Homo sapiens: one gene and its partners. The protein of the gene in region 2 interacts with the protein of the main gene of each other region in a biochemical or structural test. Each region holds a gene or a part of one and is shown on either strand. Other genes may lie near its edges.

The links.
Region 1: the proteins of NR5A2 (region 2) and SREBF1 form a complex in vitro, tested with the Homo sapiens proteins (one study listed by BioGRID).
Region 3: the proteins of NR5A2 (region 2) and HSP90B1 form a complex in vitro, tested with the Homo sapiens proteins (one study listed by BioGRID).

The regions. Positions count from the first base shown.
Region 1 is NC_000017.11:17,833,987-17,841,907, forward strand, and holds the start of SREBF1 (sterol regulatory element-binding protein 1), read right to left. Parts: upstream 3,001-7,921; 5' UTR 2,832-3,000; coding exon 2,741-2,831; intron 1-2,740.
Region 2 is NC_000001.11:200,023,287-200,030,778, forward strand, and holds the start of NR5A2 (nuclear receptor subfamily 5 group A member 2), read left to right. Parts: upstream 1-4,423; 5' UTR 4,424-4,561; coding exon 4,562-4,625; intron 4,626-7,492. UniProt on the Homo sapiens protein: Orphan nuclear receptor that binds DNA as a monomer to the 5'-TCAAGGCCA-3' sequence and controls expression of target genes: regulates key biological processes, such as early embryonic development, cholesterol and bile acid synthesis pathways, as well as liver and pancreas morphogenesis.
Region 3 is NC_000012.12:103,925,933-103,933,409, reverse strand, and holds the start of HSP90B1 (endoplasmin precursor), read right to left. Parts: upstream 3,001-7,477; 5' UTR 2,895-3,000; coding exon 2,846-2,894; intron 1,890-2,845; coding exon 1,787-1,889; intron 1,134-1,786; coding exon 992-1,133; intron 585-991; coding exon 468-584; intron 1-467.

The sequences.
Region 1 (7,921 bases), on a different chromosome or scaffold from region 2:
ATGAAGAGTGTGCACCCATCCCCAAACACATATAAACACACAGAGAGAGAGAGAGAGAGAGAAGAAAAGCTCTTTCACATAATTAGCAGGGCTTATCTCTGGGTGGTAGGTTTAAAGTTTTTTTTGAAACAGAATCTCACTCTGTCATCCAGGCTGAGTGCAACGGCATGGTTATAGCTCACTGCAGCCTCTAAGTCCAGGCTCAAGCAATCCTCCCACTTCAGCCTCCAGAGTAGCTGAGACTACAGGCACATGTCACCCACACCCAGCTAATTTTTTATTTTTGTAGAGACAGGATTTTGTCATGTTGCCCAGGCTGGTCTCAAACTCCTGGACACAAGTCATCCTCTTGCTTCGACCTCCCAAGTGCTGGGATTATAGGTGTGAGCCACCACCCCAGGTCTAAAGATTTTATTTTCTTCTTTTTGCTCACTTGCATTTTCTAAGTTTTCTACAATGAAAAAAGATGTGTGTAATTGGGAAGAAAAACAGGAAGTTTGAATAAAAACTGAAAAATCCTCTACTGAAGTGGGTAAAGCTGAGCCCTGCCTAGTGAGAAGGGGCTGCCCCCAGTCTTCAAGGGGCTGGGACTGCCCCCACTCTCTCATAGACTAGACCTTGGGCCACATGGCTGCCCATGCCTGGCCTTTGGTTCTGGAGAGACAATGTTTTTATCCATGAGTCAGTAAGAAAGGTCTGTATCAGACCTCTGGCCCAGACCAGATTCTGTCAGTAAGAAAGGTCTGGGCTGGGAGCGGTGGCTCACACCTGTAATCCCAGCACTTTGGGAGGCTGAGGCGGGCGGATCACAAGGTCAGGAGATCGAGACCATCCTGGCTAGCACAGTGAAACCCCGTCTCTACTAAAAATACAAAAAATTAGCCAGGCGTGGTGGCTGGCGCCTGTAGTCCCAGCTACTTGGGAGACTAAGGCAGGAGAATGGCGTGAACCCAGGAGGAGGAGCTTGCAGTGAGCCAAAATTGCGCCACTGCAGAAAACAAACAAACAAACAAACAAAGGTCTGTATCAGACCTGTGGCCCAGAACGGGTTCTGTTGTCCAACTTGCCCATGAAGGGAGGGTTTGCATCATTTTTCTGGAGGTGGAAACTAAGGTTTAGAGGGTGAGAGGGCTTGAGCAGGATGACAAAGGAAGTGAGGAGTGTCCAGGTTCAAGTTCTGACCCCAAAGCGCATGTCCTCCTGGCTTGGTCACGTTGCCTCTTGGGACTACACTCACTGGGCCCAGTGATGTGGAACTGGTAGTTGAGTCAGGCCCAGATCTCCCTAGGGCTTGGGATTTCAGGGTTCATCACTCCAGAGGGCAGTGAAGGACAACCCCTCGTGCCAGGGATAGGGGAGGCTGTTTTGGAAAAGCCTCACAATCAGGGCCTCTCCTCTGGGGTCCTCCCCTAGCCCAGCCCCAGGGGGAAGGAGGGAGGGCTGGGAAGCTTCTGGGGCTGGCAACCAGCTGGGCTCATCTGCAAGGCTGCAGTAGGGCAGGAGTGGTGGTGGCATAGATATATCTGTTTTGCCAACCCCAGGGTGGCCACGGGTTCCATGGACATGTCCATTCAGGCTGTGAGTCTAGGCATCTTGTTCCTGCGACCTTGGCCTCAGTTTCCTCATCAACCAAGTGCAACTTAGCTAGTGCTGCTAAAACTCCTGCACAGAAACCATGCAGGCAATTTGCTAGGGGCTTCCGTTTGCTCTATCTACAAAATGGAAGCAACGGGCCTCCTAATTGGCACTTGGTGCCACCATTGGCCCCAAACCCCTTCTCATCACAGCCAGGGTGATGCTCCAAAGATGGAAGCCGGTGCCACTGTTCTGCTCCGCCCTTTCCCTGGCCGACCAAGTCGGTTTGCGTCCTCCTCCTCCCTGACCTCACTCCTTTGCAAGCCTCTAACTCCTCACACTTAGGCCCTGCCTCGAGGCCTTTGCCCTTCCCTTGCCGTGGCCTGGAAAACATCTTTCCTTGCTGGTCCTGGGGGTGACCCTCAGGTCTCAGCTTAGAAGTCCCTGACCGCTCTACCCAAAGTAGCCACATCCCTGCCCTCCCCCAGCCTCGCTCCACCCAAGGTACAACTAAATACCCGTTTGGTTTCCCGGGAGATTTTTGTGTTCCCTAAAAGAGGGGGTACCCAGGTCTGTCTGTAAACCCTCGGTGCCTAAGACGGGGCCTGGCATTCGGTGGATGTCAGTGAATGAGTGCGGAGGCTGTGCCCGTCGCAGACCGGGAGAACCCGACACGAGGCGGGGGAAGGGCGCGAGGCAGCGCCCATGCGCATGCGCAAGAGCTCCGACGCCGAGCTGAACTCTCGGGCCGGAGGGAATGACCGTGAGTAACCTCGCAATTACGTCACGGCTGGGGCTGGGGCGGAGCTTCGGCGACGCCTGGGTCCCCAGCTTCAGCCGTGGCCATCACAGGGCTGGAGAGTCACCGGTCGGGCGGCACCCGGCCTGGGACGCGTAGAGGCGCACGTGTCCCGGCCCGGAGCCGCCAAGGGACCCCGGCCCGGCCCAGGAGCCCTCACCCACAAGCGCGCGGCCCGAGACGCTAGCGCGGGAACCAGGGAGGCTCGGTGAGGCTCGGGACACCGAGCTCAGAGACACCGGGAAGTCCCGCGCGAGCACAGCACGGAGCTGGCGCCCGTGGGGGAGACAAAGGCCAGGGAGACACCTGCGCGCCCCCTACTCGCGCCACCCGGCGCAGCTTCAAGCCCTGCCCGCCCTGACGCACCTTCGATGTCGGTCAGCAGCGCCGCGTCCAGATCGCACGGCTCGCCCAGCGCCTGCTCCAAAGCCGCCTCGCTGAAGGGTGGCTCGTCCATGGCGCAGCCGCCTCCTCCGGGAGGCCCGCCGGGCCCGCCGCCTCGTACGGCCCTTCCTAGGGAGCGCCGCCGCGGCCCCGGCTCTCAGTCGCCGCCGCCGCTCCGCGCGTTCGTGTCCTGCCCTGGCCTCAGAGGCGGCCCGGCGCCGGCGAAAAGTTCCTCGGAAACTGGGTTCCCCCGGCCGCAGCTCTGCTGGGCGGTCGAGGCGGAGGCGGGGCCTTTCGGGGAGGACCCGCCCTCCCAGATAGACGGCCCCGCCCCACCTTGAGAGAGCGGGGGACCCCTGATCCCCGGTCTGCGCCACAAATCTCCCCTCAGCCGGCCCCTCCTCCAGAGCGCCCTCCAGTCATTCATTTTATCCAGCCTCGCGCACAATGGCAGCGGCCTCTGGCCGGCTGCTGCGGGAACGCGGGCAAGCCGAGCCCCCTCTCTGGGCCTCTGTTTCTCCAGCACCAAGCAAGGAAGCCGAGTGGAAGCCCCAGGCCTGGGCCCATCCCAAACTTCATTTCCTCATTTCCTAGATTTGACTCTTTAGAACAAGACAGACCAGGATCCAAGTTATAGGGGTCCCAGGCCTGCTGTGTTGTGAGCAGGCCTGATGTAACTGCTGGGCCAGTTACATCACTCTGCCTCAATTTTCCTCATTTGTAACATGGGCCTAATGATGCTTTCTCACGGGCAGGCTGGGAGGCTAGTGACAATGTGGAGGGGAGCATGACCTGTGAGATCAGCCTGCCCCCTCTCTGCAAAGAAACCAGAAGATTGGCCTCTTGAGGACAGGAGTGGCCAAAGAAAGAGGCTGGAATTTCGTCATCTGGTTTCCTCCCAGATCCAGCTGTAGGGATAGGATACCAGTGGGCCCAGTGCAGCTCCTGAAGGAGGAAGCCAGTACCCAAGGAAGACTGGCCCCAGGGCTGTCTGACCCCAGATTTGGCACTTATTCCCAGGAGCAGCCAGGATAGGGGCCGCAAGGAAGAGGTAGCTGTGCTTTAGATCAGAGCCAGGCTGCCCTGGATCATCACAAGCTGGGACTAGATCAGAGCAGGCAGCCCTGTTGAGAAGAGGGCTGGAAACCGAACCTGGTTCTGTGGCCTAGGGACAGAGCCAGGTGGGGCAGGAAGGAGGGAAGGGGTCCCAATGAGGTGGGTTGAAATAAACCAGAATTAACATTCAGGAATCTGAATGTGATAAGGCAGTGAGCTCCCTGTCCCCAGAGGTATGCAAGCAGAGAGAAGCACCCTTGGTGGAGGGCAGTCCAGGAAACTCATCAGGGGCCTGGGCCTCAGGCCTTCCCGACCCCAGACCTTCATAAGTCAAGCCATCCTGCAGACTGCCTTGCTCAAACTCCAGATATAGCCTATCTGGCCACGCCCTAAGCAGGAGTAACATTCATGATGCATTTTAGAAGGGGTGTGTGGGGGAGAGAAGCCACAGAGCCCAAGTCCCTGGGGCTCAGCCTGGACATCCAGCTCCCTTTGTTCCTCTCCCAGAAGTGGCTGCGGTGGAAAATTACCCAGAATAGCGGCGCCAGAAGTCATAGGGGTCGCCAAACCACATCTCCCCAAGTAGCCCTGCTCAAGGGTCCACCCAGGACCCACTCCCTCCAGATGAACAACTGCTGGAGAACACAGAGAACAAAGCTGGCTTCTCCTCAGTGCCCCACCCCCACCAACACTCTAGAGGCTGCAGGAAGCTGGTGACTTCCCTGAAAATTTAAACAGCCCTTCCCAGGGAGGGGGTGGGATAGGAAGTGCTGGGTGAAGCCTAAATACCATTTTCTTCAGAGCTAGGCAGGTGATCTGGGTTTTCACCTGCTTGCTGTGTGACCTGGATCCAATACCTCACTTCTGAGTCTCAGCTACTGTATCTATAAAATGGGAATAACCCTTTCTGCAGTCCCTCTGCAGAGGCAGGGAGGGTGTTTTGGAGTCATCATCACAACAGATCTGCCTCACTGTTTTTTGTTTTGTTTTGTTTTGTTTTTTGTTTTGAGACAAAGTCTCTCTCTGTCACCCAGGCTGGAGTGCAGCGGCATGATCTCGGCTCACTGCGACCTCCACCTCCCAGGTTCAAGCAATTCTGTCTCAGCCTCCTGAGTAGCTGGGATTACAGGCGCACGCCACCATGCCAGGCTAATTTTTGTATTTTTAGTAGAGATGAGGTTTCACCATTTTGGCCAGGCTGGTCTTGAACTCCTGACCTTAGGTGATCCACCTACCTCGGCCCCCCCAAAGTGCTGGGATTGCAAGTGTGAGTCACTGCACCTGGCTATCACTGTTTTTGTTGTTGTTGTTGTTGTTGTTGTTGTTGTTTTTAAGACAGAGTCTCGCTCTGTTGCCCAGGCTGGAGTGCAGTGGCACAATCTTGGCTCACTGCAACGTCGGCCTCCCGGGTTCAAGCATTTCTTTTCCCTCAGCCTCCCGAGTAGATGGGATTACAGTCATGCACTACCACGCCCGGCTAATTTTTGTATTTTTAGTAGAGATGGGGTTTTGTCATGTTGGTCAGACTGGTTTCGAACTCCTAGCCTCCAGTAATCTACCCACTTCGGCTTCCCAAAGTGCTCGGATTACAGACGTGAGCTACTGCACCCAACCCGCCTCACCGTTTTTAAATGGGTTACCACATATGTAAATAGAATAGCTCAATAAATATTCACTCCATAACTGCAGGAGTTAGGGGAAAGGGAAAGAAGGTAAGACAAGGTCAACAGAAGACCTGCACCCCAGAAAATCCAACCCCCATGGGGCACAGTCCAACGTGGGGGTGGGAAGAATTTACATCTTTGCCACCAAAGAAACAAATCTTTGCCCCACAGCCTGGGATTACCAGGGCAACCCTCAACGTGAGGGTAGGGGAAAACAGAAGAGGGGATCCATTTTTCAGGGGGAACATGCTTGTCTTGGCAGTTTCTCTCCTCAAAGATCCTGAGACCTCCAAACAAGACCCTCGGGCCCCGGTTGGCTGGGGAGCGTTGAGCACGCCCAAGGAACGTGGACACAAGCCCCTCTGTAATGGTGTGCCTATCAGGGGTCAGGGATCCAGCCTGGTCCACGGTGACCCCGGCGGGCAGGTTCGGCACAGTTTACTTGCTGAGCGCTTACAGAGTGTTCAGTGCGGTTTAAACCCATTCACTCCTCTCGACAGCCTCAGGCGGTTGAGGCTGTTACCATCCCATTTTACAGATGAGTAAATTGAGGCACGTGGAGCGGGACGGTGAAGCGACTTGCTCAGGACCTCACAGCACTGCTGCCCCTGGTTTTGTCTGGACTGGAGGTAGCCGGAGAGCCGGGGCGGCTCCGCACGCGCGCGGGCCAGGGCAGCGGCTGGAGACCCAGGGGAGCCGGGGCGCAGAGCCAGACCAGCCCCGCCCCCGCGGGCCCGGCGCAGCCAATGGGCGCCCGGCCCGGAGTGGGGTGACGCGGCGTCAGCGCGTAACTCCCGGGAGCCCAGCCCTGGGTCACATGCGCCGCGCCCGCTCTACCCGGGAGGTAGGGAGGGGCGGCGGGGACAGGCTGGGCTCAGCCCCCAGTCCAGACACCTGGCCAGGAATGCCGCCAGGTGCGCGTCCCGGGCACCGGAAGGGCTAACACGGGACAGCCCCACCCGGGACTGCGTGGCGCGCCCAGAGCGGAGGATTCCTTCCAGGTCACCCAGCCCGGCCCCTGCCCGACCTCGGCGTTGCCAACTGGGAGATAGGAATTCGCATCTCCCCGCTTCCTCTCCAAGCCTCTTAGAGACTGAGAGGCAGCTTCTGTGGGTTTCGAGCCTTTTCGGGCAGGCGTCCAGCACGGGCAGGGCCTCTTCCAGGACGCTTGTCCTGTCCAGCCATGCCCTCGGTGCCCGGAGCTCAGCCGTGGATGGCAGGGCAGGCACTGGGCAGGAAAACTGGGTTGTCCACTCTAGCCATTGCCTAGGCTACTGAAACCCCTCCCCACTCCCAGAGCCCCCCTGCCCCCCTGCCCCCCTGCCTGGCCCTGCATATCCTTCACTGCTGTGGGAGCCAAGCTGGGACCTGCCCAGGTTATGGCAGAGGGGCCAGGCTGTGGGAAGAGACTGCTCAGAGCCTGAGTCTCCCCTCCCCCACTTCTCCATCTGTATATAATGGGGTCAGATGACTGTTGACATGGGTGATTCTGGTCCTAGATGACGCTCGTGGTCTCATTCCAGCTTGGGCTCTGTGGTGAGCTGGGCGAGTTCTTTCCAGCCCTCTCTGAGCCTCCATGGCCAGCTTTGCCCCTGGAGGCTCACACCCATGTGGGCACCTGCAGGCTTATCATGAGTCACTGAACACACCCTCTACCAAAGAGCTACTTGAACCCCAAAGATTGCTGCACAGTGAGGGGTGTAGCTCACAAAGGCTGAGGAAGACTGATACCTGTTCCCTGGGGGGTAACTGGCTGTTTGAGGAGAGGCCAATTGCATATTGAATGGGGTGAGTCTAGCCGGCAACAGGGAGAGTGAGGAAATCAATGTAATAAGGCCCCTGTGGGCATTGGGTTTACCACCCACTACACCAGTTTACCGATCAGGAGAGTAAAGAACAGAGTGAGACAGTGACTTACCCAACACCTACAGTTAAGCCTGCAACCCTAGGGAGGAATGGGGTGGACAGGAAATGGCACCAGACAATGGAGTCCACTCAATTTCCGGAAGCATCCTACTTACTCCCTAGTGCTGAGAGTAGAGATTTTGCGTCCTGGAATGTTGAGGGCCTGGGCTTGGAGGCCCTGGACAGACTCCTCTGAGGTCTGCCCCAAAAGCTCTGACAGGGACTCCTGTAAAATAAACTGATGGCATTTCTGGGTGGGTCATGCAGACCTGTCCAAGGCCTCAGGTTCTGCCCTCCCGCTGCCCCCAGGACCCAAAGGAGACCTTTTTCTTGGAAAAACCACAGGCTCCCACAATGCTTCCCTCAAGTGTGCAGCTTGAGTGCCCTGGGGCTCAGCTATGTGCTCAGAGCCTCCTCTCCTGCAGGCCCTGGAAGAGAGCTACAACACTTAACTGGCTGCAGAGTGTCCTTGACTCTGGGAATAGAACCAGGCTGCACATTCCCCAAGGGCAGGACTGGAGCAGCCCTGTCCCTCCCC
Region 2 (7,492 bases):
AGGTGTTAAGCCACCGTGCCCAGCCACAAATCACTTTATGATGCTGTTTAATTATATGAATCCTATGAGGTCTTCTATAAGGTCTCTAATAGTGTATGTGACTAGGATAGAACTGGTGTCAGAAACAAAACCCAAAAACAGAAACTTTCGTATGTCTTCTAAAATTCCACTAAGGAAGATGTGTCTTTCACTTAAGATCCCAAGTCACAAAGCCCATAATCACTTTTTTTTTTTTTTTTTTGAGATGGAGTGTCACTTTGTCACCCAGGCTGGAGTGCAGTGGCACGATCTTGGCTCACTGCAACTTCCGTCTCCTGGGTTCAAGCAATTCTCCTGCCTCAGCCTCCAGAGTAGCTGGGATTACAGGCGTGTACCACCTTGCCCAGTTAATTTTTTGTATTTTTAGTAGAGACAGGGTTTCACCATGTTGGCCAGGCTGGTCTTGAACTCCTGATGACAAGTGATCCACCTGCCTCAGCCTCCCAAAGTGCTGGGATTACAGGTGTGAGCCACTGCGCCCAACCTCCATATTCACTTTTGATGACACGTTGAGTACTTTCTTTCTCTGACATGATACTGAGTACTTTATTTCTCATTTACATCTTACCACAAAAACTACTGGATTTCATCATTTTTGTCATTTTTACTTATGAGGAATTCAAGCCTTAAAAAAGCCAAGCATTACTTTGCCACCAAGAAGGAGGCAAAGTACAAATGGAAGCCCTGAGCTTTCTGACCTCAAATCCTAGGCTCTTAACCACCCTGCTACCCTGCCTTCATTCTTACCATGATCTCATAATTTGTGCTTATATAGGCTGCATTCAGCAACCCAAACTGACTGGTTTCCTCAGGAAAACTGTCAGAGCTACAACCAGTGCATTGAGAGGATCCGATGGACTATGTAATTTTATGGACTGAATGATATGAAAGGCCTCAGGAAATGTGTATCCAACACTTTGGCAGGTGTAAAAGAAGACCTACATATTTCAAAGCAGTTACAGATGCAAAATACGTCCATAGAAATATATGTTCCACACACTTGGAAGGCTAAGGCAGGAGGATCGCTTGAGCCCAGGAGTTCGACACCAGCCTGGGCAACATGGTGATATACTGTCCCTACAAAAAAATACAAAAATTAGCTGGGCCTCATGGCTCACACCTGTAATCCCAGCACTCTGGGAGGTCGAGGTGGGTGGATCACCTGAGGTCAGGAGTTTGAGACCATCCTGGCCAACATGGTGAAACCCCATCTTTACTAAAAATACAAAAATTAGCTGGGCGTGGTGGTGGGTGCCCGTAATCCCAGCTACTTGGGAGGCTGACATAGAAGAATCACTTGAACCCGGGAGGTGGAGGTTGCAGTGAACCGAGATCATGCCACTGCACTCCAGCCTGGGTGACAGAGTGAGACCTTGTCAAGAAAGAAAGAAGAAAGAAAAGAGAAAGAAGGAAAGAAGGAAAGGAAGGAAGGAAGGAAGGAAGGAAGGAAGGAGAGGGGGAAGGGAGGGGAGGGGCGAGGGGAGGAGGGGAGGGGAGAGGAGAGGAGAGGAAAGGAGAGGGAGAAAAAGAGAGAGAGAGAGAGAAAGAGAGAGAGAGAGAAGATGGGGAAGGTCCCTTCTGGGTTTCCATCTAAAATCAAAGAAGAAATCATTGGTTTCAATAATAATATTTTAAAATCCACCCTATGATTTTTTTTTCTTTAAAAGAAAAATATCAATCTAAGAAAATAATACCTAACATGGTGTTAATGAAAAGTAGGTTGGATTGGTTATGTGTACATAAGAACTTAAAGCTCAAAGGAAAAACAGCACGTATACCAGCATGTTGACCTGGCTCCGCTGACAGCCAGGATTACCAGTTATTTCACTTGGTGTGTACCAGTGCTACTTGGAAACTACCCACCTTCCATGAGCAGGTCTACTCAATAAAATCTTACTTTCATGAGGCTGTGAGGATATCCAAATGGGGACATTTCTTATACTCAGAAGACCACAAGTCACGAATGTGGCCACTTCTGATTCTGACTTCAGGGGTCACCCAGACCCCAAGCCACCCCAACCCGATAAAGGCAAGTTCACCTTGGGCAAAGTTCAGAGCCAGCAGCACAGCTGAAAGGCAGTGGACAGCACTTTCAGATGCTGTATTCCAACATTTCAACTGACATGAAGTGAGGCAAGAGGGGAAATAACTAACAGTAATCTGATTAAAAAACAAAAGAGAAAAAAAAAAGGGCCTGGTGTGGTGGCTCATGCCTGTAATCCCAGCACTTTGGGAGGCCGAGGCGGGTGAATCACCTGAGGTCAGGAGTTCGAGACCAGCCTGGCCAACATGGCAAAACCCCATCTCTACTAAAAATACAAAAATTAGCCGGGCATGGTGGCACGTACCTGTAATCCCAGCTACTAGGGGGGCTGAGGCAGGAGGATTGCTTGAACCTGGGAGGCGGAGGTTGCAGTGAGCCAAGATTGTACCACTGCAGTCCAGCCTGGGCAATGGAGCAAGACTCTGTCATTAAAAAAAAAAAAAAAAAAAGGACTGGCCTGGGTTTACAGGTAGCTCACACCTGTAATCTGAGCACTTGGGGAGGCTGAGGCAGGAGGACTGCTTGAACCCAGGAGACCAACCTGGGCAATACAGCAACACACTGTCTCTACAAAACATTTAAAAAATTAGCTGGGTGTGGTGGTACACATCTGTAGTCCTAGTTACTCAGGAGGCTGAGGCAGGAGGATTGCTTAAGTCCATGAGTCTGAGGTTGCAGTGAGCTATGACTGTGCCACTCCATTCCAGCCTGGGTGACAGAGTGAGATCCCATCTCTAAATAAATTAATAGACCATAAATTCTGTAATGTGAATCTTTAGACAAAGACTGCTAAATCTATCATCTGATATATGAAGTTTTATTACAACAAATGTTTATATATTGAGTTAAAAATTATCTGTACCCATACACACAACCTGCATTTACTTAATTTAAAAGGAGTGTCAATATTAAAATTGAGGATTTTGGCCAGGTGCGGTGGCTCACGCCTATAATTCCAGCACTTTGGGAGGCCGGGTAGATCATTTGAGGTCACAAGTTTGAGACCAGCCTGGCCAACACGGTGAAACCCCGTCTTGACTAAAAATGCAAAAATTAGCCGGGCATGGTGGTGTGCCCCTGTAATCCCAGCTACTGGGGAGGCTGAGGCGGGAGAATTGCTTGAACCCGGGAGACAGAAGCTGCAGTGAGCCGAGATCGTGCCACTGCACTCCAGCCTGGGCAACAGAGCGAGAACCCATCTCAAAAAAAAAAAATTGTTATTTTGTTGTTATTGTTGTTTTTGAAGACAGAGTCTCACTCTGTTGCCCAGGCTGGAGTGCGGTGGCATGATCTTGGATTGTGTTCTTCCAGGGTTGCAGAGAGAAGTGCAACAGCGTCTCATTGCAACCTCTGCCTCCCAGGTTCAAGCAATTCTCCCGCCTCAGCCTCCCAAGTAGCTGGGATTACAGGAGTGCACCATCACACCCAGCTAATTTTTGCATTTTTAGTAGAGATGGAGGTTTCACCATGTTGGCCAGGCTGGTCTCGAACTCCTGACCTCAGGTGATCCGCCTGCCTTGGCTTCCCAAAGTGCTGGGATTACAGGTGTGAGCCACCATGCCCAGCCTAAGAATAATAACTTTATAACTATGAAAAATGTGTTACATATTCACCATTTTGCCAGCATTAATCTCAAAGCATAAGTTTTACCTTTTGGGGATAAAGAGATAGATTGTGTTTTAGCCATATGACCAATGTAGAAACAAGCTAAGGTTAACTCCTCATCTAATGAATAGGCCCGATAAAAAAGTTGGTTGACCACAACATGAATAAATAAATAACCATAAGCTTGGAAATGCTACCTGTAGTATTTCAGAGTGTCGATCACATTTGTAGTCATCACTTAAAGAATTAATGTCTGCCAATGTTATCATCTAAAATGTATTTACAGAGGTCAGAAGAGCTATGTCTGTCCTCCTCTATGCAAAGAGGTGATGACATCAAGGGGTATGTCACAAGCCAAAGTTTAGTTAGCCTAAGTTAGTTAGCTGGTTTGCAGTTTTTATCCACTAAGTCTGATCTTCTGACCCCTCAGTTTTACAACTTTCCACTCTCTGTGCTGCATAGCACCTCTCCACTTCTGAGTTAATCATTTCTTTGCCATTATCTGGCAAGAATTCTTATCTCTTTTGCTGTCACTTTATAACAGGGTCCTCTTATCAACCTGCATAGAGTCATGTGATGAGTCAAAGCCTATCAAAAGTTTCCATTCTTCTGATTAGAAACCATCATGAAACTGGATACATGGTTTACAGCAGGTCACTAATGTTGGAAAAAGTACAGAGTCCAGGGAAAGACTTGCTTGTAACTTTATGAATTCTGGATTTTTTTTTTTCCTTTGCTTTTTCTTAACTTTCACTAAGGGTTACTGTAGTCTGATGTGTCCTTCCCAAGGCCACGAAATTTGACAAGCTGCACTTTTCTTTTGCTCAATGATTTCTGCTTTAAGCCAAAGAACTGCCTATAATTTCACTAAGAATGTCTTCTAATTCAGATACTGGGGATTTACAAGAGTCTTTAAAGCACGGACTTACACCTATTGGTAAGTAGGAGTTTCTCTATTGATCATCTATTTATTCTGCTACTACATACATATAATTTAATCTTGTTGATGGATTTTGCATTTTAAGTCATGGCTTTTCCTATTATGTTTATTAAAAGCACACAATAAGCCTATGTATATATATCACACATTTATCTTTCTTGCAGTTCAAAAAAAGCAAATGGATATTTCAACATATGAATATTATTCATTATATCTAGTGTTTACTGGTGTCATTCTAATACCCTAATCAGCCAGAAAATATAATTTATACTTTATCAATTTCAACTTTAATATTTTCTGATAATTTTTAATCAGAAATAATAAGCTAAAATTTGAACAATTTGAAACAAGTTAATCATATTGAGTGATCATTGATCAAACTTTAACAGATAGCTGTCAAGTATTTGTTACTTTTCAACCCACACAAAAGTATGGTGTCTTATTCTCTGCTTATACCGTAAAAAATTTTCATTTTATTTTCCTGGGGAATGAAAGTCATGCCCCCACCTCCAAAAAAAAAAAAAAAAAACCAAAAAAACTAGACCATCATTAGTAAAGGATTTGAAGAGCTACTGTTTCTCGCAACAATTAGTATATTTTGTTTTTACAAACAGAAATAAGTAAATAAAGCTACTATTCATTTAAAAAATAGAGTTACAAACTTATGAATTTTATAGCAAGACTACATTCAATTAATTCTAAAAGTAAAGGACTGAAGGGAAGTGATTCCCAGTGATCTGTAATTATTTGTCTGTTGGAAGTCAGGCCCTTCTGCCTTTCCCCAGTTTTTGAAGGACCTGTGCCTTTTCTGGCAGCATTTGCCTAGGCTTTCAGACTGGAATTTCCCTCCGAATTTGCAGGGGCCTGTCATGAGCTCTCTGAGTCTCAGCTCCATTATAACAAGAAAGAAAATCAAGGCTTGAGTTTTTCCTCTTTTTTCCTTCCTAGTCAGCTGACTCCACAGAATGCAGTGGAGTCACAGATTGCTTTTTTTATGGGCCAACTACACCCTAAAGTATATCACTTGAGGAAATGTTTACCAAAAATGTTCTATACTTACGAAAAAGAAAACATGGGGAAGGTAAGCAGGGTGTAACACACAATCAATTGTTCTGCAGATAACACAGAAAATACAGGCACAAGAAAGATGAGAGAGCAGCACACAACCATTTCGCATCTTTTTCGTCGGGCAGAACCGCCGCGGTGCGCAGGCAAGGAGTCCTTCCCGGCAGCTCCGCGCAGCTCCGGTTCCGCGTCCGGGGCCGCAGCTAGAGCGCGCTCGGGCCGGAGACGCGGACTGCGCGCGCACGGGGGACGCGCGCTCGGGGGCTCGCGCCCGCGCGGGCGGTCTTGGGCTCCTGCTGCGCGCAGCCCCAGCTGGCCGCTGCCAAAATAGAGTTGAGCTGGGTCGGGAGACCACGCACGCCGATCCCTCACAGTCTCCCCCACACCCCATGGGTGAATTAAAGAGGGTAAGGTAGGGGAAAGAGACGCTGTTGCACTTTTCTCTGCAACCCTGGAAGAACTGTGTTTCCAGCTACCGCACGCGCAACTCACATCGCAAGGGACCGAGGCGGTACACTCTGAGCGTAAACAGAGAACACCTGCAGCTCTGGAATCGGTCCCACCGCAGAGGGCTGGGAACCGGAGGACTGTCGGTCCAGCCCATAAGGGGCTGCTGGGGACTAAACCTCAAGAAAAGTACCGAAGAAGGCTCTCCCCTGGCCTCAGCGAGACTACCCCAACATCCTAAACCTGTGCAGGCACTTCCGGGCGCCGGATTCCGGGATAACAAAATTCCAGTCAATTTGCCGGTAAAAGAGACCTCTTTCAGGATCTTGTTCGCAGCCACCCGCCCCTTCCCAACCCAAGCACATCCCCTCCGCCTCCTGGTATTGCAGCCCCGCAGGTGGTTGTGAGGTGTCCGCACCTGCAACATCTTAGTGACCCTGAGGCGGCTGTGGCACCGGGAGACAATCTGTTTACCTCGTAGCCTCCACGAGGGTGCTAACGGTCGTTCCCAGGGTGAATGGCTGGACGGAGCCATCCAAAGGGCTGAGGGAGAGGAACAGAGGGCGGTGAGGAGCCTTCGGACTGAACTATTGGATTGAAGGGCCTGACCCGATTCCTGAGGGAGAGATGCCCCTTGAATGGGTCTTTCTGATTGCCCAGGGTAGCCCCACTGGGAAGAACCCACGGGTGCAGCTGTAGAGAGTGTCTGAGGGTCTCGAGGGTAGCTTTCAGATGGCAAATTGCAAGTTGGGCTGTGTTGAGTGGTTCACAAAACCGAGCCCGGTGTATGTAGACATCAGTCAGGGTTTACAATTCTATATTTAATTCAGTTGTGTTGTACTAGGAAATGAGCCTCCTTTTGTTTAAAAAGCTGTCTCCATGGTTTTTAACTAGGGGCTACATCTTGTATGCACACTGATGGTTACATGAAAGTTTTGTATAGATGTCTGTGCTTGTATAGAAAAGCAGAATTAAGATAAAGTTGTTCCTTCTGCCTACCTGCAAGATAATCATTCATTGTAGTGTAAAAGCAGCACACTCAGGTTATAACTAGATTGTTCCCTTAAAGTTAACTAACTCTGGGACACTGGCCAGACTCTTGGTTTCTGGTCTTGGTTTACTTCTTTCTCCCAAGTGGGATGATTCTATTGAATAATATGCAGTACTAACTTTAGAAGCTTTTTATACTTACCTATATCAAGAAAAGAGCCATATCTGTGTGGTAGGAAATGTTATACATAAAACAAATATTTATTGACCACTCCCACAGTGCCCAATATTATGCTTTGATTCATATTAAATTTCCATAATTCTTCAAATTAACTGCATTTGCAGAATATTTTATGCACTCA
Region 3 (7,477 bases), on a different chromosome or scaffold from region 2:
AGTATGAGACCCTCTAAGCTTGCTCTGCACCATGGCAACCGGCTACACACTCCAGGTGGCTGCCCACGCCTCTGTCCCAGCCTGAGGATGAGGCAGAGCAAAGACCACAGGCAGCCTGTGATCAATGATTTAAGCCAGGGGCTGGCAAACTTTTTCTGTAAAGGGCCACACAGTAAATATTTTAGGCTTTGGGAGATTTATGTTCTCTGTTAAAACAACTTGACTCTGCTGTTGAAGCACAGAAGCAGTCACAGATAATAAACAAATGGGCATGGCTGCATTCCAATAAAACTACTTAGAAAAACAAGTCAAGTTAGATTTGGCCATAGTTTGATGACTTTCAAGCCACTGAGACTTGGGGTTTTTTTGCCACTGCAAAATAATCTAGCCTATCTTGACTGATAGGGATCCTCTACCTTTAAGGATTCCTTTTCCTTTAAAAGAAAGAAAAACTGCCTTACACTTACCTTAATTTTGACTGTTAGTTCCTCATTTCCAGAAAGAGCATTTTCATCAGTCAGTGATATTAGCCTTATCTTATCTAAAGCATCAGAAGCATTTGAAATCAGTTCTCTCAGGAAAATCTAAATGGAAGCCAGAGGGAATACACTTAGACTATCCTCAAGATGCATTAAGATATTCGATTTTATGCCAAACCCATTTATTTCTTCTCTGTACCTTATAAAAGCACTCTTATTCACCTAACAGTGATCTTCAGGTATGCAATGCAAGAAGTTTAGTTTATGTGACTGCCCTTAGACTCACAACTATTATCAGGCCGTGAACCTATTTAGAGGTAAAGGAAAAGGAAAATGTCTGACACTCCCTTTCTTCCCAGATATCTGGTAGCAATTCTTGGACATATTAGGTATTTAAAGGTTGTTACCTACTTACTTGGATACTACATTACTTTTGCAGTAAATTAAGCAAATTTAAGTAAACAAGTATGCCACCATACAGAGATAAAATATTCTAACCACATGTTGCTTACCTCTTTATTTTTATACAATGAATTGATGATAAGTTTCATCATTCTGTTAACTTCGGCTTGGAAGGCAAACTTTTCCGACTTCTCTCTAAGTTCTCTTATTTGTGATGCATTTAATCCATCCAACTGAATAGCTTCTTCCTCTCTAAGGAAATCAGTTAGGTAAGCAAATATTGCATGGCATAGTTCCCTTCAAAACTAGAGGAATTATGATGAAAGCACAGGGGCCTCTGAATATTGTCTTGGGGGTTAAAATGGAAACCTTTATAAAATATAACTGATATACCGTCTCATTATGTTAGCACAGCAGTAGGCTACCTTTAACATTACACTGGAAATACTCGGTTCTTAAAATTGCCAGAAAAAAAAAAATCCCAACTTTCCTCTACTAAAAAGCAAAGTCATACTCATTTATGCTCCACAGTGAGGACTTCAAAACTGTCAATAAGTCCCAAGAGGCCAAATTTTAAAATATTGTTCAACTGACAGAAATCCCATTTTTAAACTTACTCGGTGTACACAGTTAATGAATACAAATCCAACTGAAAGTATCTTCTATAAAGTCTTACAAAGTTTATGGTGCTAGTATTCTGCAATATAGTTTTCAAAGGAATTCACTCAGTTTTCATCACTCCTAGGGACAAGTTAGGAGGTATGTATGCACACAACTCACCGGGTATTTAAATACAGGGTGTTAGACTTTATCTGGACCTTTGGAGAAGAGATACATAAGAAGTGACCGTAACTCACAAGGTTCACACGGCTTATCTGTATACGTAAGTTCAAATGAACACAAACCTCTGTACTACTTCATCATCCGTCCTTGATCCTTCTCTACTTTTACCCAGATCCTCTTCTACTGTACCATCCACATCAACTTCATCGTCAGCTCTGACCGACCCTGAAGATTTAACACGGGCAAACTCTTCAACATCACACTTCTCCAAGGAGGATGATCAAATAGGGAAGGGTAGGGGTTGCAAAATTCAGTTGGTAACTAAGGGAGGTGGGGATGAAAGAGTGCATTCCCTGGTTTAAATACCAAAGGTAAAGCCAAGACAGAACATCTATTTAAGTTCAGATGCTGAAGTCTCCAGTAGATCCTGAAATACGGAGGCAGTCACCACTTCTAAACAGTGTGTCTCCGATCATTTATAAATAACGTTAAGCAGACTGATACCAGGCCTCTTCTACACCCACACGTGTTGCGCGCAGGCCGAGCCAAGGCCTCCCAACTGATCAAGCCAAAACTTCGGCCTTCGTTAGCACAGGTCAGAATGCAAATAGGATTTATGCAACCTCTGGCGAGGGGAACTGAAATTGAGCCCAGAGGCATGAGAAGGGGGAGAAATGTTAAGAACCGAACTCCAGCAAAACTGAATCAAACACGCTGACACTGCCATTCCGCTGGCCCCAGGCCTCACGCTCCCGAGGCCAGCATCTAAGAAGGGACACGGGCTTGCGAGGAGTCGGAGTCTGGGGAATTAGGGGACGGGAAAGCTGGGATGGCCGAAGGTTGCGGTGGCCGAAAAAGTCCTCCGGGCGGGGAGGGGGGAGGGACTCGCACAGCTCCCGGGGGAGCCAGAGCCTCAGAGAGGCCCCACCCCGAGGTCGCTGAGACCTCCGGGCGAGATACTATTAGATCTGTAGGGCAGTTAGATGATGTTGCTCTCTTTTTTTATTTCCAGAGGAAGAAGAGAATAAACGTAATTCCCTTGCCCTCTTTCGAGGAATGGTGACGTCCCTTGGCCCACCGCAGGCCCCGGGATCCCCCCTCCCACGTTCAACGCCCCCAGGACCTTCGAGAAGCGGCCGCGTGTGTGGAGGGGGGACGTCTGCTCCTCCAGAATCACTCACCGAAGGTCAGCAGGACGCAGCAGAGGCCCAGCACCCACAGGGCCCTCATGGCGTGCGGCCGGTGAGTCTCAAGTCCCCTTCGATCGCAGGAGCCGCCTCCACCCCCCACCCCTGGGTTCGGATCCTCACACCTCCAGCCGCGCGGTCCGCCCACTACACCGCAAGCAGGTCGGGCCGCTTTTCACCCCCACTTCCCGCGGGCGGGGGACGGGAAACATGAACCCACCAATCGCGCCGCACCACGCACCCACGGCACCCAATGAGGATTCGTGAGGGGGGGCGGAAGTCCACCAATCGGAGCTGTCCAGGTGCGGTGACCGATGCCCGAAGCGTGGCTCCTTCCGATTGGTCAGGGTTTGCAGCTTTTCTCCAATCAAATGGCTCCGCGGGCCCCTCACACGTGGGACCGCCCCTTTGCCTGGGCGGCCTTGGCCTCTAAGGGAAAACGTCCAATGAATGTAAGCAGAGAACACATCCATCCTTTTAGAGAGGTCGCGGCGGAACTACTTCCGGATCCTAGAGAGCGTTTATTCCGTGACCGGGGAAACGGTAGCCATGGCAACGTGTTCTTCACCCTTTCCCATCTATGCCTGGGGTTTCGTTGGAAGTGATTCCAGCACGACTTTCGCGGCCAGCTTTCTCGTGTGGCGGCGCTTCTCGGAAAGAAGAAACACACGAGAGAGGTTGCAAATCCCCTAGAACCCTTTCAGATGGCGGGGGGGCGGGGGGGTGGCGGTGGTGAGAAACTACAGCTCCCGGCATGCAACGTCCTAGGGGTTCACTGCATTGAATGCTGGGGGTCGTAGTCTTTGGTCTCTGAGGACCAGCTGCGTAGTTTTGGCCCTTTCTTTCACGTTCCCCCAGCGTGTCTTTGCCAGAGCCCTGCCCTGCGTCTTAGATGTTACATCTCGTTCTGATTACAGTAGAGATATGTGCCTATTCCAGGAGTCTCCATTGTACACAGCTTTTAGAAGCGGGCCTAGAAAGCCTTCATGCCTCGGGCAAGGCCGCCCGGTTCTGGGGGGTCGGTCTGAGTCTGGGGGCTCCGCCTCCGGCTCAAGAGCACGAGTTTCCGAATCCGCCTACAAGTGCGTCACTTGGGCAGCCGGAGCGTTCACCTCCTCTGTGCCTTTCCGCGGCCGGAATCCCCAGGCCTTCCTTATCTGGTTTACAGAAGAACGTGGTTGGGACCTTCCCGACCACCTTAGGGAAATCGCGAGCAGCGCTGAGGCCTTCGACTCCCCAATAAAGTACAAAGGCGGCGGTGACCTGACGGTCGTAGAACCCTTTCTGTGAATCAGGTGGAGAGCGTGGTCGTAAAAGCGGGTCTAGCACAGAAAAGGAAAACCCTTAGTTTAACGAGTGCAGGAGGATGCACCTGCAGATATTTGAAAGCAAAACCTGTGGTGCTGCACATGAGAACGGGATTGCAGCTTTGTAACTTCATAGAAATACCCTGTCTGTGCTCAGAAGGACATATAAAACACCAGGTGTCTTTCCTGTGAGGGAAGTCCCTCATGCTAAACTTGTGCCTTTGGAAATATTTTCTACGTCTCTTTAACCTACTCTATACGTTACCCCCTCGCATACCCGCGCCCGTCTCTGACATAGACACCCCACTTCCTTATTGCTTCCTCCAACAAAATTGAACTTTGAATATCTTTTCAGATAATCGTCCGAATTCCTGAAGACAAGTTTTTTAGTGACAGTCTGTCACAGTCTTTTACAACTTCCCGTATTTAGTGTGCGGATCTTGGCTCTGTGGTTGGCGCTCACGTGTTGTGGTGGTGCCTTATTTACATCTGCCCAATTTACCTACATTTGTTATTAGTAAGCAAAGAGTAGCTTACAAAGAATGCTTTATGTATGCTTCTGTGCTTTCATCTTTTTTTAAAAGAGCATACTAGAGTGTGAATTACATTCAGAGATTTCAGTTGCATTTTTGTATATTTTAACTCCTTTATTTTTTGTTTTGAGAGAAAACTGAGTTTCTTCACTTTTTTTTCTGCATTTCACAGCTCAACTTCTTGACCTTTTCCTCCAATTCTGAATAAGTAAGCAACCAGTTCTGAAACTGCAAATGCCACCTTAACTAGTGAGTGGTGGGGAGTTGGTGCTGCACCTGGAGAGAACTGAGACAGAGACATATCCTTCAAAACAGAGCCACTGCTTGTGGGTAGACGTTTCTGCAGATGATGATGGGAATTCATGAGGCAGACAGAGCACAAGATGGTAGGCTGGCATAAGATGGCGGGCCGTTGTCTGATCAACTCTGTCCCTTGAAGATTGGCTCTCTGGGCTGGGAGCGGTGGCTCATGCCTGTAATCCCAGCACTTTGGGAGGCTGAGGTGGGCGGATCACCTGAGGTCAGGGGTTCAATACCAGCCTGGCCAACATGGCGAAACCCCGTCTCTACTAAAAACACAAAAATTAGCTGGGCGTGGTGCCGCATGCCGGTAATCCCAGCTACTCTGGAGGCTGAGGCTGGAGAATCGCTTGAACCCAGGAGGCGGCGGTTGCAGTGAGCCCAGATCACGCCACTGCACTCCAGCCTGGGTAACAAGAGCAAAAATTCCATCTCAAAAAAAAAAAAAAAAAGATTGGCTCTCCGGCTGAGTACCTTGTAAAGAGAATAGGCCGCTTAGTTAATTCCCAGCTTTGTTGTTTCTCGCTGTGGTCTCTTCACCTCTTCTGACTTTTGACCTAGTTCCCATCTTGGCCTAGCTCCTCCAGAACTAACACTCCAGATAGTTATTAAGTTTCCTGCCTTTGTATCGGATTCCCTTGTCCTAATTTTAGCTTTTCTCTATGTATTGCTGGAAACAGCTACTGTTGTTGTTGTTGTTGTTAAGCTTCTCCTTGAGCAAAGCTAACCCCACTAGATAGCACCCCACTTTGTAGTTAAACTCGGAAGGAAAAACCAATAGGTAAAGGAATGCAGTTAAGGGCACTGGATAGCTCTCTAGTAGGCAGGTGTAGTCCAGCAGTGGGGAGTCAGGGGGAAGGCAGACTGGGGAGACCAAGGCAAGAAAGCAATTGGCATCAGGGAACATTAAGGAATAGAGCCAAGCTCCAAGGTGAATTGGTTGGTTGGTTGATTGGTTTATTCATTAATTAACTCATCATTTCAGCAAATGTTGAGGGCCTAGTATGTGCCAGGAATTATGCTAGGTGCTAGAAATACAGGGGTGAGTAATATAGATATGGTTTCTGTTTATATAGAACTTGTGCAAATGTGTTTTTTTTAATTTTTAAATTTAAATTTTAAAAATATATTTTTTTGAGCCAGGGTCTTGCTCTGTTACCCAGGCTGGAATGCAGTGGCAGGATCATGGCTTACTGTAGGCCCGACCTTCTGGGCTCAAGCAGTCCTCCCATCTCAGCCTCTTGAGTAGCTGGACCGCAGGCATGTGCCACCAACATCTGGCTAACTTAAAACTTTTTTTTGTAGGCCTGGCACAGTGGCATGTAATCCCAGCACTTTGGGAGACCGAGGTGGGCTGATCACTTGAGGTCAGGAGTTTGAGACCAGCTTGGCCAACATGGTGAAACACCATCTCTACTTAAAAAATACAAAAGTTAGCCAGGTGTGGTGGTAAGCACCTGTAATTCCAGCTGCACAGGAGGCTGAGGCAGGAGAATCACTTGAACTCTGGAGGTGGAAGTTGCAGTGAACCGAGATCACACCACTGCACTCCAGCCTGGGTGACAGCGAGACTCGGTCTCAGAAAAAAAAAAAAGAAAAAAAAAAGGGATACTTTGAGCTTATTATGAACAAAGTTGAGGTTTTTTTCTTTTGTAAAGATGGGGTCTCCCTATGTTGTCCAGGCTGTTCTCAAACTCCTGGGCTCAAGCCTGCCTCCGCCTCCCAAAGTGCTGGGATGACAGGCGTGAGCCCCTGTGCCCAGCCTTGTGCAAATATTAACAATGGAGTTACAGCATAAGTGCAAGTATCTTATTTAAACTGAAGTAAAGATATAAAAGAATGTCTGCAAAGGAGTACCAGGGAACTTTTTGGGGTGACAGAAATGCTCTTGATCTTGATATCAGTAGTTGTTAAAACTCATCAAACTGTACACTTTAAAAGGTTAAATTTTATTATGTATACCTCAACTAAAGAAAACTAACAGCAACTATCATTCTAAACAACAAAACACTAAAAGCCATTTCACTAAAAATCAAGAACCAGACACAGATGCTTGCTGTGGTTAGTAATGTCCCACACAATTTAGGAGGATTTAACAAGACAAGGAAATCAAGTAATTGGCATAAATTTTAGAAAAGGTGGAGTCCTTTATTTTGAAATTCCTTCTTACTGATGACAATTGCATGTCCCAGAAATCCAGGAGACCCTAGGGTTTTTTGTTTTAAGTATAGAATGATTAATTCCAGTTCTAGTAGCGTATACTTAAGTTGCTGCAGTTAAAAAGCTTATAGTTGGATCTTGGAAGTGGGTGGGTGATCTGCCTCGAGTTGAGCCACTGCCCAGCCCCTTAAAAAAAAAGTATAGAATAATATGAGAATCTGGTAAATTATTGGCTATCAGATAAATATATAAAAATCACTAGTTTTGCTCTAATCTTTTAAAAAACACATCGAAGTGAAAATTTTAAAAAGTGTCACTCAGAGACA